2 separate regions of the Homo sapiens genome follow, and region 1 is linked to region 2. The links come from fine-mapping of genetic effects on gene expression. Tissue or cell type: whole blood. Region 2 holds a variant in brackets; the other region holds the start of a gene. All regions are shown on one strand. Distances are from middle to middle.

Region 1 (8,000 bases), 110 kb after region 2:
GCACCTTCTCCATCTCACCCAGACCTCCGAGACTAACGTGCTGGGGGCGTGGTCCCAGAGGGTGGAGGGACAGCAACTGCATGCCCCTTGGGGGCCAAAAGCACTGTCCAGTGGCCTCCCCTGGAGGGGTCGCTGTGTACAGAGGATGTCAGGGAAGGAGTCACCTTGGAGGTGTGGCTGCAGCCTCTGTCTGCTGCGGCTCAGCAGAGCGGGGCTTCCTTGCGGGGCACTGCCCCCCGCTGCCCTAAGGAGCAGACCTGAGCGTTGTGGAGCCTCTACCTTGTGGAGCACATGGCATACCCGGCCTGTGTGGGGTGCGCCGCGTCCCCAGCCGTGTCTCCGAGGGTCCCGCTCCCACAGCCTGCGTGTGGGCCCCACAGACAGGAAGGACGGGACATACATGGCCAGGCCTCCAGGCGTTTATTCAGCCCCTTCCCTCTGCCGCCAGCTGCTTGAGTGAAGCCCCCACTCCATGAGGAGCCTTGAGACCCCTCCAGTCCTGTGCTCAGAGGCTGAGTCTGGGCCCCCCACGCAGAGCTGGCTGCTGCTCACGCCTGGCTGCCTTTACCCACTCGCCGATGATGGTGGCCTCCAGCTTCCGCGCCTCAACCACGGAAGCAGGATCTTCTGGGTGGGAGGCTCTGGGGAGCGGGCACAGAGGGGGCCCGTCAGCCCCAGCCCTCGGTGAGCCTGTCCCGCCCGACCCGCGACCACCGCCAGGCCACCTCCCTCCGCACCTGAGGTCGAGGTGGTGCGCTCCCCCCTGGATGGTGACGGCGATGACTGAGGCACTCAGGTTCCTCCGAATCTGTGGTCAGTGGAAAGAACTCCATCAGGTGAGGAACGAGGCAACTGCCCAGCCTCCGTGGGCCCATTGGAGAGGAGACGTGAGAGGGCGAGCCGAGACTCAGTGCCCATCAAGCAACCAGAGAGAACCAGCCAGAGACGGAGGTGGGAAGTGACGAGATGATGGGGGCAAAACCGGGTGAGACAGGAGCAGGGAAGGGGCAGGTGTGAGGCCTGTGATCCCAGCACTCTGGGAGTAAGACAGGAGCAGGGTAGGGGCAGGTGAGGGGCCTGTGATCCCAGCACTCTGAGGGTGAGACGGGAGCAGGGTAGGGGCAGGCGAGGGGCCTGTGATCCCAGCACTCTGGGGGTGAGACGGGAGCAGGGTAGGGGCAGGCGAGGGGCCTGTGATCCCAGCACTCTGGGGGTGAGACGGGAGCAGGGTAGGGGCAGGCGAGGGGCCTGTGATCCCAGCACTCTGGGAGGCCATGCGGGGAAGATCGTTTGAGCCCAAGAGTTCGAGACCAGCCTGGGCGATATGGTGAGACTGTGTCTCTACAAAAAAATATTTTTTTAAATTAGCTGGGCATGTTGGTGAGCGCCTGTAGTCCCAGTTACTGGGAGGCTTGAGCCTCAGAGGTCAAGGCTGCAGTGAACCCTGATCTCGCCACTGTATTCCAGCCTGGGCGCCAGAGAAAGACCCTGTCTCAAAAAAAAAACAAACAAACTAACGGGGTCATAGGGCCCAGGCCAGGACTCACCCCGCCCCCTGCCCAGGGGTCCAGGTTCCCGTTGGAGAAGATGATGTTGCTGGCGGCTCTGAGATCTGCAAGGGGCAGAGAAAGTTGTGATGTGGGCCCCTCACGGGGGCTGTGAGCCATGGGCAGGGGGTGCAGAGCTCGGGGCAGAAAGCAGGACGCTGGCCCACCCCCCCTCAGCCTTACCACCCCCCCAGAAGCTGGTCAGCAGCCAGTCGGGCCGGGGCCACACGCCCCAGGTGTCCAGGCAGTACCGCTGGCGGAGCTCGTCAGTGAAGGGCAGGTCCGGGAACATATCGGTCACATTGTTGCTGGCGAAGGTCAGGTTGATCTCGGTGCAGGCCTGCAGGTGCCCCAGCCTGAGTCAGGCCAGCCCACGCCCACCCTTGCCCCCGAGTGGTTCCAGGCCACCCACACCCCCACACCTGGTAGTCCCAGGCCCTGGCGTCGGGGCCGGTGCCGCAGCCAGTGGGGTCAGCACAGCTGTGGTAGAGCCGGTAGATGTCGTAGCAGTGCTCGGAGCCCGAGGCGTTGTAGACCAGCCCTGGGGAGGAGAGGCGCTGGGGCCCAGCGGCCACACACAGACACACCGCGGGCTCCGGCCACCAACCTGTCCCCCCTCGGAATGGTCCTGCAGGGGATCTGGGGCTCTGGGATCTGTAGGTCCCAGTGAGGAAGGCCCTCCAGGCTACCTGCTTGGAGGTCGGCGGTGTCTGTGCTGCCAGCCCCGGGCCTGACTGTTGAGGGCCCCCCCGCTCTCCACGGGGCAGGGTGGGGCCTGCTGCCCTCTGTTGCCCTCCATGCTGGGGACCCCAGGGGCCCCTTGGGCAGCACCCACCAAGCTGGGCCTGGCTACAGCCAGTGCTGAGAGGGTCCCCAGGGACGGCCCCTGCCTCCCCCAGGGTTTCTGGGAAGGTCGTGCTGTCCACCCCACCACAGCCCTGGGGCAGGAGGCAAAGCCCCTGGCCGGGCTGCGGATCCTCGCCCCACCCGGCCCCAGGACCCAAGCCAAGCCTGGGGTCTCCACACTTGCCCATCTGGGGCCGGGGGAAGGGCACCTGCCAGTGCTCGCAGCCCCGTGATCCTCTGGGCCTCACTCAGCAGCCGATCACAGCCCACCTGGAGTGCAGGGGCAGCGGCGACTCAGCGGGGTCCCCTCCACCAGCTCCGCCTCCCTGGCTCCCAGGATGAGGGTCAGGCCGCTGACCACCAGCCTCGGGACACTCCAGCCGGCCTCTCCCTGCGCCCTGGGAGGCGGCGCCTCACCTTGACGGGGTTGGCAGGGAGGGGACCCAGGAAGTCAGTGGGGTAGGGGTAGTCCATCATGGCCAGCACGGTGAAGGCATTCCGGGCGAACATGAAGAGCTGGGTCAGGTCCTTCTCGTCTGACAGCGGCTGGCAGGTGCCGAACTCCCAGCGGACCGTGTCGTAGGCTGCGTGGAAGGGGCAGAGACTTGAAGTTTGGGCATAGCTGGCGCTGGGGCGGGTCAGGCAGTGGGAGGCGGTGGGAGGACCTCACCTCCCTGTAGGAACAAGTCCTTGATCTGTCGGAACGCTTCCCGCACACCCTGGGTGCATTTGGGACTCTGGCCCTCAAAGTCCTGGGGGAAAGAGACCGTGCTGACTGCAGCTGCTGTCCCTTAGGGGGCCTGGAGGACCCCAAGCCTCACTCACCGCCGTGACGTCCCGGAAGAACTGGTTGGAGTCGCCGAGGCCTGCCACAGCTAGAACGGGCGCGCTGGCCGCCAGCGCCCCCGCCACCAGGTGGGGATACTTCATCCTCAGGTAGGCACTGAGCATCCCCCCATAACTGGGTGAGGGACACAGGGTTAGGGCTGCTGCCCCCAACACCCCATTTCCTCTTTTCCTCCTCAGGGGCCCACAGGTGCCACAAGGAGGACGACACTTCTGAGACCCACAAATTCCAACCCTGGGCCAGGTGCGGGTGCAGCTCTCACTGGGAAAGGCCGCTAGTGTGGCCGCACATCCAAGCTGAGCAGGTGGCTGGGAGGACAGGTGGGAGGGCTTCCTGGGGGAGGCAACACTAAGCCTGGAACCACTGCCTGAGGCCTTACGAAAAGGCAGCGGTGGGAGTCAGAGGGGAGTGGGGAGAAGGGCTGGGGGCGCTGGGTCGGGGCAGGGGAGGGAGGGGGTGCGGAGGCCGGGGGAGGCGCCCACCTTCCACCGAAGGCGATGGCGGGGGCATCCTGGGCCCCGAGGTCGCGTCGTAGCGCGCGGAGCAGCTCTGCGAAGTCGGCCAGGGCCTGCTCCACCGTCAGCAGCTCCGTGTGCCCGCGCTGCGTGGACTGCGCACCGAACGGCAGCGACTTCCCGTAGTAGCGCTGGGGGAACGTGCCATTGAGCCCGGCCCCGCGACCCCGCCCGGCACCCGCGTGCCCCGCGACCCCCGCCCGCGACCCCGCCCGGCACCCGCGTGCCCCGCGACCCCCGCCCGCGACCCCGCCCGGCACCCGCGTGCCCCGCGACCCCCGCCCGCGACCCCGCCCGGCACCCACGTGCCCCGCGACCCCGCCCGCGACCCCGCCCGGCACCCACGTGCTCCGCGAAGACCAGTAGAGCCCCCCGCTCGGCCGCCAGCTCCGCGACGAAGGCCGAGTTGTTGGCGAAGGCCCACACGTCGCCCTCGTTCCCAGTGTAGAAGAAGATGGGCCCCTCGCCCCGGACCCAGAACCTGTCTGTGGGGAGGGCGGATGAGGCGAGGGTGCCGGGGGGCGGCGGGACGGCGGGGGCGGCCGGGCCGGGGCCGGGGTCTCACCCGACACCAGGAAGCGCTGAGGGAAGGTCTTGTTGCCGAAGCGCTCGAAGTTGAAGTGGTCCAGACGCTGCTGGAAGAAGCGCTCCTGGAAGCCGGGGTCCGGGGCCCTGCGGGCTGTGGGGGGACGCGAACCTCAGAGGCGGGGCCGGGACCGGGGAATGGGCCGGGGGGCGCCGCCACTCACCCCCCGCCTGGAGGCCGCGCAGCCCGAGCGCCAGCAGCAGGACCGGGGCCCAGGGAGCGGAGCCCATGTCGCCTTCCGCGGGCGCCCGTCACGTGGGCGGGGTCACGGGGCCGCCAGGGCGCGCTCCTCCCTCCAGGCCCCACGTGTTTCGGGCGCCCGCGGTCCCCACGGAGACCGTCGCTGCTTCAGCGCCGCGCCGGGGCTGTGCCCCCCAACACCCCGCGCCCCGCGGCCGCTGCCCAGGGGTCCTTCCCGGGCACGGCGCGGGGAAGCAGAGGGCCCCCGGGCCATCTCCGCGGCCTCCCGCCCCACTGGCTCGTCCTCCTACCGCGGCCCCATCCGGAGCTGCGCTAGGGCGAGTCCCTGCTGCGCCCGCCAAGCCTCCCCAGCACTTGCTCCTGGCAGGTGCCCCACTCCAAGGCAGGGCCGGGAGAGTGGGGGCCGTTCTGCTGCCCTAAGGGCGGGAGGGAGAGGGTCCCAAACAGAGTGCTGGCCCCCCGAAGAAAGCAACCCAGGGTTTGTCCAAGCGATAACGGGCTGGGCTTGGCGGGGCGGGGCCTCGCAGCGGGCAGGAGTGTGGGGTGCCCCTGGAGCGTCTGGGCAGGGCCGGGATGTGGCCGGGTAGCTCCCAAGAGCTGGGAATCGCCACCTGCCCTTCCGACTGGCACCCAGTGTGCCCACACAGCCCTGCAGGGACAAGGGGGGACCAGAGGCCTCTGCTGGGAGCTGGGGCCTCCTCCCTGGGGAGCACCCAGAGGATGGAAGAAGTCACCTTTCCCCAGCGTCCAGTTCAGGGAGTGGGTGAGGGGGCCGTAGTGGTGGGTGCCAGACTAGCTACGTGGAGTCCTGCTGGGGATGTACATGGGCCGCTAGCCAGGCCCAGAACAGGTGCAGGGGCAGCAGGGGCTCAGCTACAGAGAGTTACCCTGTCCTTCTCCCAAGACTACCCTCGGCCAGCATGACCCTGCCCTGCCCATCCTGTGTGGGGCTGAGCGGAGAAGACCGGCCACTTCCACAGCCCCTCACGCCATGGCCCTCCCGTGCCTCACACAGAGGCACCCCCCATGGTGGGTGACTGGTGGCTGGGGCCCTCAGCATGGTGGCAGTGACCATCACGTCACACTGCAACACGAGGTCATCCAGGGCCACACACCGTCCCCACCACGGCCCTCACATCTGGGCCCTGTCCCATCCCTACGCAGTTCCTGGGGCTGCCTGCCGGGGCCCCCGCAGGACGGGGGTGAGGACAAACAGCAGACCTCCTTGGATGTGGAGGTACCCCACGGCGTCCCCCACCCCACACCTCTGCTCCTTTGGCTCCCTCGGGTGCCTTAGGTGGCCAGAACTCCACCAGCAACCCTCACCCAGGACCGCAGCTCTGGAGACGCCAGCTAGGCCGAGAGCTGGCCAGCTCCCCAAGCACACCAGAGCCTGGAGACGCTCCAGGCTTGGCTGGGCCCACAGAGGGGCCAGAGCCTCAGGGAGGGCTCCAGGAGCAGGGTTTCCAAGGAAGCCACTTTCCCTCTTGTCCACGGCCCAGGCATTGATGCCCCTCTGGGCAGCAGCCAGGGCCTCCCAAGCCGGGAAGGGTGGGCATGGGGCTACCCAGCATGGCTCTGCCAGGGGTGAGGGTGGCCACAGTCCCCTGCCCACATCCCTGTGCCCACAGAAACATATGCTGTATGGAATCAAGGTTTAAGGCATCTAGGCCTGTGCTGGTAACCTGTAACCTTAGCCCCATCCCTGTGCCCACAGAAACATGTGCTGTATTGACTCAAGGTTTAGGGGATTTAGGGCTGTGCAGGATGTGCTTTGTTAACAATGTGTTTGCAGGCAGTATGCTTGGTAAAAGTCATCGCCATCCTCCATTCTCCATTAACCAGGGACACAGTGCACTGCGGAAAGCCGCAGGGACCTCTGCCCAAGAAAGCCTGGGTATTGTCCAGGTTTCCCCCCAGTGAGACGGCCTGAGATATGGCCTCGTGGGAAGGGAAAGACCTGATCGTCCCCCAGCCCGACACCCATAAAGGGTCTGTGCTGAGGAGGATTAGTGAAAGAGGGAGGCCTCTTTGCAGTTGAGATAAGAGGAAGGCTTCTGTCTCCGACATGCCCCTGGGAACGGAATGTCTCCGTGTAAAACCCGATCGTACATTAGTTCTATTCTGAGACAGGAGAAAACCGCCCTGTGGCTGGAGGCGAGATATGCTGGCGGCAATGCTGCTCTGTTACTCTGCTACACTGAGATGTTTGGGTGGAGAGAAGCATGAATCTGGCCTACGTGCACATCCGGGCACAGCACCTTCCCTTCAAGCTATTTGTGACACAGATGCCTTTGCTCACATTTTCTTGCTGACCTCTGCTCTGCTGCCGCATTCCTCATGCAAAGATAGTGAAAATGGTAATGAATAAATACTGAGGGAACTCAGAGACCGGGGCCGGTGCGGGTCCTCCGTATACTGAGCGCCGTCTCCTGGGCCCACTGCCTTCTCTATACTTTGTCTCTGTGTCTTATTTCTTTTCTCAGTCTCTCATCCCACCTGACGAGAAACACCCACAGGTGTGGAGGGGCTGGCCACCCCTTCACTGGCACAGCAACCTGACATGTGAAGGGGCCCAACTTCTGCAGGAGGACCCCAGGTCTGCATCGCCAGGGCCCTCGTCAGCCTGTGCAGGGCACAGTAGGTCACCCAAGGGGCAAGTGAGCCTAGGCTGCCCATGCCTGTGCAGACACCCCCGATCTCTCTCTGCCCATCCCCGGAGCAGCACAGACGGGCAGGTTGGCTGCAGAGCCACCAGCTGAGGGGGTGAGAGGTCCCTGGGCAGGGAATCCTGGGAGCCTGGCCAGCAAGGGTGAGAGGCTGCTGAGCCCAAACCCTCCCCTCGAGGTCCATCTGCCCTCTCCAGACCATCTAGGCAGCTCCTCCACACCCCGATTCCTGCTGGGACACCCAGTCCCACCCTCTATGGCTCACAGACTGGGGGCCATGCCCGGCCACACATCACGTCTGTGCTGTCCCTCAGACTGAAAGGCTATCGGCGGGCGGCTGGCCGTGACCTACTGCATCCGCACTTGGGGCCGTGCTGGTCTGTGTGCTGAATTATACATAATATAAAATTGACCACTTAACCACTTCCGCGTGTGAAATTTGGTGGCATTAGGTACATTCCTGCCTTCACAACGCTGTGCACCGTCATCACTATTTTCCACTATCTCATCACCCCCAGTAGAAACTGTAGCCATTAAACAATGGACCCCAGCCCCTGGCACTCACCATTCTACCATCTGTCTCTGTGGCTCTGCTGACTCCAGGTACGTCATATCAGTGGAATCCTACAGCATTTTGTCCTTTTTTTTTTTCGAGACAGAGTCTCACTCTGTTGTCCAGGCTGGAGTGAAGTGACACGATCTCGGCTTACTGCAACTTCCGCCTCCTGGGTCCAGGCCATTCTCCTGTCTCAGCCTCCGGAGTAGCTGAGATTACAGGCACCCACCACC
Region 2 (8,000 bases):
CACCTTCTCCCCAGGGCCTTGGTACGGGCCCCTCATCCGTCCCCGGTGGAACACACTCCAGTGCTGCCCCAGTCAGCCCAGCCTGATGCTTCTCTGGATACCACGCCAGTCGGGGCTCCTGGACACAGAGCCTTGGAAATACCATGTGGCTGCCCCATCCTTTGGTGTCCTGAACCTCAATTTCCCTCCATCCGGCCTCCACCTCGATTCCAAGCCCTAGTATTTCAGCTCTTTCTGGACACTGTGGTTATAGCTCCGCTTGCTGGTTTCCCACATCCCTGGCAGGCAAATGGCCAACCACAGAGAAGCCCCAGGCCCCCAGCCCCCTCTGCTGCCCCGGCATCCTGTGTCTTTAACACCGACAGACGCACCCTCACAAACCCACAGGAAAAATGACGGCACGGACAGAGGCCGTGAACCGGTGGCTCAGAAGGAAAAAGAAAACAAGACACAGGAAGACCATTCACCTCACGCCCGTCTCAAGAAACAAACCAACAAGACTCGGTTCACCGCTGCAGCGGCCCCACTGCGTTCTGTGGGCGTGGGCTGTGGACTGTGGAGCGGCAGTGGCCATCCAACACCCCCCTGTGCCCTCGCCACCTGGGAATCAGCCCGGTGGCTTCCTTTTTTTTTTATGGTTTAATCAATTCATTTATTTACTAGAAACAGGGTCCTGCCATGTTGCCCAGGCTGGTCTCCACCTCATGGGCTCAAGTGACCCACCTGCCTTGGTCTCCCACAGTGCTGGAACTACAGGCGCGAGCTGCCACACCCGGCCGGTTTCCCTGTGAAGGGCAAGTGAGTGCTGGCTGCCCCACTGCGTGGCGTGGCGTGGCGTGGCGTGGCTCCGTGGCACGGCCACCACCCTGTCTATGGGAGACTCCAGTTGTGTCCAGGGAGAAGGACGGAAAAGGTGACTCCATGCATGCCCACTGCAGGGAGGGCCTGAGATTAGGTAAATGGCGTGGCTTGTGTCCCCTTAAATTTAAATTCTTAGGCTGGAGTCCTAACCCCTAGTGCCTCAGAATGTGACCTTATATGGGCCGGGCACGGTGACTCATGCCTGTAATCCCAGCAGTCTGGGAGGCCGAGGGGGGTGGATCACCTGAGGTCAGGAGTTTGAGACCAGCCTGACCAACATGGTGAAACCCCGTCTCTACTAAAAATACAAAAATTAGCCAGGCATAGTGGCAGGCACCTGTAATCCCAGCTACTCGGGAAGCTGAGGCAGGAGAAGTGCTTGAACCCGGGAGACAGAGTTGCAGTGAGCAGAGATAGTGCCACTGCATTCCAGCCTGGGCAACAGAGCAAGACTCCATCTTGGAAAAAAAATAAAGAATGTGACCTTATGTGGAAACAGGGGCTTTTTAACATTTTTTTTGAGACAGAGTCTTGCTCTGTTGCCCAGGCTGGAATGCAGTGGTGCAATCTCGGCTCACTGCAACTTCTGCCTCCTGGGTTCAAGCAATTCTACTTTCTCAGCCTCTGGAGTAGCTGGGATTACAGGTACACGTCACCACGCTGAGCTTTTTTTTTTTTTCCTTGTATTTGTAGTAGAGACAGGGTTTCACCATGTTGATCAGGCTGGTCTCGAACTCCTGACCTCAGAAGATCTACCCACCTTGGCCTCCCAAAATGCTGGGAATACAGGTGTGAGCCACCGCACCCGGCTGAAATAGGGTCTTTATAGAAGTTATCAAGTTAAAATGTGGTGAGTAGGATGTGCCCTGATCCAATATGACTGATGTCAGTATAGAAAGGCGAGTTTGGACACAGATGCACAGGGAGGGCCGCAGGCAGAAATCAGGGTGGCACATCTGTAAGCCTGGGAGCCAAGCGGATGCTCTCCAAGGCCCTTGGGAGGAAGCAGCCCTGCCCAAGCCTAGGTGCTATGTCTGACCTCCAGACTGCTAGGCAGTGAGCTTCTGTTTTTTTTGTTTTTTTTTTTTAATGAGATGCAGTCTTGCTCTGTCGCCCAGGCTGGAGTGCAGTGGCACAATCTCGGCTCACTGCAAGTTCTGCCTCCCCAGGTTCACGCCATTCTCCTGTCTCAGCCTCCCAAGTAGCTGGGACTACAGGCGCCCGCTACCACACCTGGCTAATTTTTGTATTTTTAGTAGAGACGGGGTTTCACTGCGTTAGCCAGGATGGTCTCGATCTCCTGACCTCGTGATCCGCTCGCCTCGGCCTCCCAAAGTGCTGGGATTACAGGCGTGAGCTCCCGCGCCCCGCGGTGTTGTTGTTTTAAGATGGAGTCTCACTGTCACCCAGGCTGGAGTGCAATGGCTCAATCTCGGCTCATTGCAACCCGCGCCTCACCGGCTGAAGCGATTCTCCTGCCCCAGCCTCCCGAGTAGCTGGGATTACAGGCGCCCACCACCACGCCTGGCTAATTTTTGTATTTTTAGTAGAGACGGGGTTTCACCATGTTGGTCAGGCTGGTCTCAAACTCCTGACCTCAAGTGATCCGCCCACCTCGGCCTCCCAAAGTCAGTTTCTGTTGTTTTAAACCCCTCACTTTGTGGTCCTTTGCATGGCAGCGCCAGCAAGCTAATAAGTAAAGCAGGGAGAAGCCAGGAAATGGAAGAAAATCAGCATTAGGATCTGTCATTCTGAGTCTCTACTTGAACAGAGCTGAAAAAAGACGCAAGGAGCTGTCTGTGGGATGACCCCTGACAGGCAGAAACAGGCTTTCAGTTTTGCTTCCTGTCTGTCCACACTGTTTGCATTTTCTACCACATTTTTGTAATACCACATTTTCTACCACAATTTCATAATGTTTTGAAGTAAGAACAGTATCACAGCCACTAACCTTAACTAGACCCTGGTCCCCGAGGCCACGGGGTTATCCCTAAACCTCCCGTCCCCTGCAGCCCCTGCTCCTGATTCATAGAGCCAGCGTTAGAGGGGCCCAAGCTGAGGTCCCGAGGCTGCTGCTCTGGGACTGACTGACTGGTGGGTTAGAACTCTCTCCCTCCCCAACACCCCTCCCTGTAGGCCCCTTCCAAGGGGCTCTTTTTTTTTTTTTTTTTTTTTTTTTTTGAGACAGGGTTTCACTCTGTCACCCAGGCTGGAGTGCAATGGCGCAGTCATAGCTCACTGCAGCCTCCACCTCCTGGGCTCCAGTGATCCTCCTGCCTCCGCCTGCACAGGGCCACACCCCAGTGACATTTGAGCAGCTCTGTTCTGAAGGGAGACACACACCTGTTTGGGGGGCCGGAGGGCTGGGGGCATTGGGGTATTGGTGCAAACTTGTGCAGAGATTTATCTGCTCTGTGCATGGAGAGAGCCTAGAAGCAGTGAGACCTCGGGAGCGGTGAGACCTCGGGGGCGGCGAGACATCGGGGGCGGCGTGACCTCGGGGGCGGCGAGACCTCGGGGGCGGCGGGACCTCGGGGGCGGCGGGACCTCGGGGGCAGCGAGACCTCGGGAGCAGTGTGCAGACCAGAGCTCAGATTCTGGTCCCAAAGCCCATCTTCCCTAAAAGGAACCAGGGTTCTGCTAGGGACTGAATGTGTCCTCCCCAAAATTTGTGTGTTGAAACCCTGGCCCCTAGGCCAGGCAC[A/G]TGGCTCACGCCTGTAATCCCAGCACTTTGGGAGGCCGAGGTGAGTGGATCACCTGAGGTTGGGAGTTCCAGACCAGCCAGACCAAAATGGGGAAACCCTGTCTCTACTAAAAATGCAAAATTAGCCGGGCGTGGTGGCACATGCCTGTAATCCCAGCTACTCGGGAGGCTAAGGCAGGAGAATCGCTTGAACCTGGGAGGCAAAGTTTCCGGTGAGCCGAGATCACTCCATTGCACTCCAGCCTGGGTGACAAAGCGAGACTCTGTCTCAAAAAAAAAAAAAAAAACAAAACAAAACCCTGTCTCCTGCAAGGTGATGGTGTTAAGAAGTGGGGTTGGCTGGGCGCGGTGGCTCAAGCCTGTAATCCCAGCACCTTGGGAGGCCGAGGCAGGCGGATCACAAGGTCAGGAGATCGAGACCATCCTGGCTAACATGGTGAAACCCCATCTCTACTAAAAATACAAAAAATTAGCCGGGCGTGGTGTCAGGCGCCTGTAGTCCCAGCTACTCAGGAGGCTGAGGCAGGAGAATGGCATGAACCCAGGAGGCGGAGCTTGCAGTGAGCCAAGATTGCGCCACTGCACTCCAGCCTGGTGACAGATCGAGACTCAAAAAAAAAAAAAAAAAAAAGAAGCGGGGTCTTTTGGAGGTGGGTAGGTCATGAAGGTGACACCCTCGAGATGACCAGAATCAGCGCCCTCATAAAAGGGACCCCGGAGAGCTCCCTCGCTCCTCCTGCCAGGTGAGGAGTCAAGGGAAGTCCACAACCCAGAAGAGCCCTCGCCAGAACCCAGCCATGCTGGCGTCCCGACCTCGGACTTCGAGCCTCCAGAGCTGTGAGGCATGAATGCCACCCGTCCAGGGTCCTTTGCACAGCAGTCCTGGTCGGACTGAGACAGGCTCCTTGGAGAGAGGCTGATTCCAGGTGTGGGGCAGGGAAGGCAGGGACGCACTCAAAACACATCAGGAGCTGGTTACGAAGACACAGAAGCCGTGCTGGAGGGGCGCCTGCTGGAGGGGCACCGCTGGCTGGACCTCAGGCCATCTGAGCATAAGACAACAGTGGATTGTGCGTTATGAATGGTTAACGTGATAAATGTTACATAGATTTTACCACCATCAAAAAATTTTAAAAGAGCCAGATGCAGTGGCTCACCCCTGTAATCCCAACACTCTGGGAGGCTGAAGTGGGAGAATCCCTTGAGCTCAGGAGTTGAAGACCAGCCTGGGCAATATAGCAAGACCCTATCTATACAAAAATAAAAATAAAAATTAGTCGTGTGTGGTGGCACATGCCTGTAAGGAGGCTGAGGCAGGAGGATCACTTGAGCCCAGGAGTTGGAGGCTGCAGTGAGCTATGATTGCACCACCACACTCCAGCCTGGGTGACAGAGCAAGACCCTGTCTCAAAATAAGTAATTAAAAGATGACAGTAATGCATGTTAACACATTAATTTTTTTAAACCTGCAAGTCTGTACTGATAGACTTTTTAAAGTGGAGGGGCCCTTGGTGAGAGAGAAATGCCAGCCAGTAGATGCAGAAATGGAATAGAGGCAGGAAATGGCCATTTTGCAGCTGCTGGCCCTGGGTGACGGGGGTCGGGGGGCGCGGCCACGCAGCACCCAGATTGCGTTCCCACATCTAAGGGAGGGAGAACTGGGCCTCAACCAGGCGGCCACATTCAGCATCACCTGCTGAGGGACAGATGGACACCTGGAGGTGACCGACACAGCGTGTCCCAGTGCTGCTCCGGCCAAAAATGTCCAACCTGCATCCAGCCAGGAGGAAATGAAGACACATCCAGAGCTCAGCCTGGGCCTGCGGAGCCTGTCCCCCTGGAAGGGCAAGAACGCCAAGGCTGGGGACGGCTCAGAGGGGCCCCGGGGAAGGCAGCAAGACACAAGGAGTGCCTCGTGGTTGGATCCTGGATTTTTATTTCCTTTTTTTGTTTGTTTGTTTGAGACAGAGTCTCACTCTGTCGCTGAGGCTGGAATGCAGTGGCACAACCTCAGCTCACCGCAACCTCCACCTCCCAGGTTCAAGCGATTCTCCTGCCTCAGCCTCCCGAGTAGCTGGGATTACAGGCATGTGCCACCACACCCGGCTAATTTTGTATTTTCAGTAGAGACAGGGTTTCTCCATATTGGTCAGCCTGGTCTTGAACTCCCAACCTCAAGTGATCCACCCGCCTCGGCCTCTCAAAGTGCTGGGATTACAGGTGTGAGCAACCATGCCCAGCCTTTTCTTTCTTTCTTTTTTTTTTTTTTTTGAGACGGAGTCTCACTCTGTCACCCAGGCTGGAGCGCTGCTCACTGCAACCTCCGCCTCCCAGATTCTAGTGATTCTCCTGCCTCAGTCTCCCATGTAGCTGGGATTACAGGCGCTACAATGCCCAGCTAATTTTGTATATTTAGTAGAGATGGGGTTTCGCCATGTTGGCCAAGCTGAACTCCTGATTTCAGGTGACCTGCCTACCTCAGCCTCTCAAAGTGCTGGGATGACAGGCTTGAGCCACAGCACCTGGCTGATCCTGGTTTTTTGGAAAAACTCTAAAGAGCATGCCTAGGGCCGGGTGCAGTGGCTCACATCTGTCATCCCAGCACTTTGGGAGGCCGAGGCTGGGAGATCACCTGAGGTTGGGAGTTCGAGACCAGCCTGGCCAACATGGTGAAACCCCCATCTCTACTAAAAATACAAAAATTGGTCAGGCACGGTGGCTCACGCCTGCAATCTCAACACTTTGAGAGGCCGAGGCTAGGCGATCACCTGAGGTCAGGAGTTCAAGACCAGCCTGGCCAACATGGTGAAACCCCATCTCTACTAAAAATACAAAAATTGGCTGGGCATGGTGGCACACATCTGTAATCCCAACACTTTGAGAGGCCAAGGCTGGGTGATCACCTGAGGTCAGGAGTTCGAGACTGTGGGCGGCAAGCTACCCAGGCACCAAGGCAAGAGACCGAGGACATGAGCTGTTCCAGTATAATAAAATATAAAACAAGAATAGTTATACCAGATATAGAACTTAGATATGATTATATATGAATATCATTAATCATTAGTTTGTAGCAATTACTTTTTATTCCAATATTATAATAATCCTCGCTCTATAATCATAGCCTAGGAAAAACCAGGCCATACAGAGATAGGAGCTGAGGGGACATAGTGAGGTGTGACCGGAAGACAAGAGTGCGAGCCTTCTGTTATGCCCGGACAGGGCCACCAGAGGGCTCCTTGGTCTAGCGGTGACGCCAGCGTCTGGGAAGACGCCCGTTGCCAGGCGGACCGTGGTCCAGCGGTAGCAAAAGGTGTCAAGGAACAACACCCGCTACTTAGCAGACCAGGAAAGGGAGTCTCCCTGTCCCCGGGGGAGTTTAGAGAAGACTCTGCTCCACCTCTTGTGGAGGGCCTGACATCAGTCAGACCTGCCCGCAGTTATCCGGAGGCCTAACCGTCTCCTGTGATGCTGTGCTTCAGTGGTCACGCTCCTAGTCCGCCTTCATGTTCCATCCTGTACACCTGGCTCTGCCTTCTAGATAGCAGTAGTCAATTAGTGAAAATACTAATAGTCCCTGATATGCAGAAATAATGGCATAAGCTGTCTTTCTCTCTGTCTCTTCTCTCTCTCTCTGCCTTGGCTGCCAGGCAGGGAAGGGCCCCCGTCCAGTGGACACGTGACCCACGTGACCTTACCTATCATTGGAGATGGCTCACACTCCTTATCCTGCCCCTTCTGCCTTGTATCCAATAAATAACAGTGCAGCCAGACATTCGGGGCCACTACTGGTCTCCACGCATTGGTGTTAGTGGTCCCCCGGGCCCAGCTGTCTTTTATCTCTTTGTCTTGTGTCTTTATTTCTACACTGTCTCGTCACCGCACATGGGGAGAGACCCACCGACCCTGTGGGGCTGGTCCCTACACGAGACCAACCTGGCCAACATGGTGAAACCCCATCTCTACTAAAAATACAAAAATTGGCCAGGCGCGGTGGTTCACACCTGTCATCCCAGCACTTTGGAAGGCTGAGGCTGGGGCAATCACCTGAGGTCAGGAGTTAGAGACCAGCCTGGCCAACATGGTGAAACCTCATCTCTACTAAAAACACACACACACACACAAAAATCAGCCGGGCATGGTGATGCGCGCCTGTAGTCCTAGCTACGCAGGAGGCTGAGGCAGGAGAATGGTGTGAACCCGGGAGGCGGAGCTTGCAGTGAGCCGAGATTGTGCCCCACTCCAGCCTGGGCAAGAGAGTGAGACTCCGTCTCCTCAAACAAATAATAATAAAAAATAAAAAAGGGCATGCCTGGGCCACCGGGGCCCTGAAAAGCCTTGCTGTACCCTTTGTTAACTCTGGGCTACCCTGGCGGCTCTTGGGGGAAGGAGGCTGCAGGGCCGGGGCTGGCAGGTCACAGCTGCTTGCTTTCACATG

Evidence for each region. PIP is the estimated chance that this variant, and not a neighbour inherited with it, causes the effect.
Region 1: it holds the start of DPP7, and the variant in region 2 is fine-mapped to the expression of DPP7 in whole blood (TOPMed, PIP above 0.99).

The regions. Positions count from the first base shown.
Region 1 is chr9:137,110,143-137,118,142 of GRCh38, forward strand. It overlaps DPP7 (dipeptidyl peptidase 7), which reads right to left and starts at 4,591. Exons shown (of 13, transcript NM_013379.3): 1 at 4,505-4,591; 2 at 4,321-4,434; 3 at 4,101-4,240; 4 at 3,723-3,886; 5 at 3,219-3,354; 6 at 3,064-3,145; 7 at 2,811-2,977; 8 at 2,603-2,663; 9 at 1,970-2,088; 10 at 1,731-1,887; 11 at 1,548-1,612; 12 at 738-808; 13 at 404-641. The coding sequence starts at 4,571. The coding sequence ends at 506. LOC124902314 (a long non-coding RNA gene) reads left to right here and starts at 4,657. Exons shown (of 2, transcript XR_007061874.1): 1 at 4,657-6,902; 2 at 7,029-7,636. RefSeq lists silencers at 4,287-4,436, 4,467-4,816.
Region 2 is chr9:136,997,660-137,005,659 of GRCh38, forward strand. No RefSeq gene overlaps it. Among named protein-coding and RNA genes, the nearest start is that of CLIC3, 5.1 kb to the left of the region's middle. RefSeq lists an enhancer at 2,507-2,626. The variant A/G (reference allele first, on the strand shown) is at 3,566.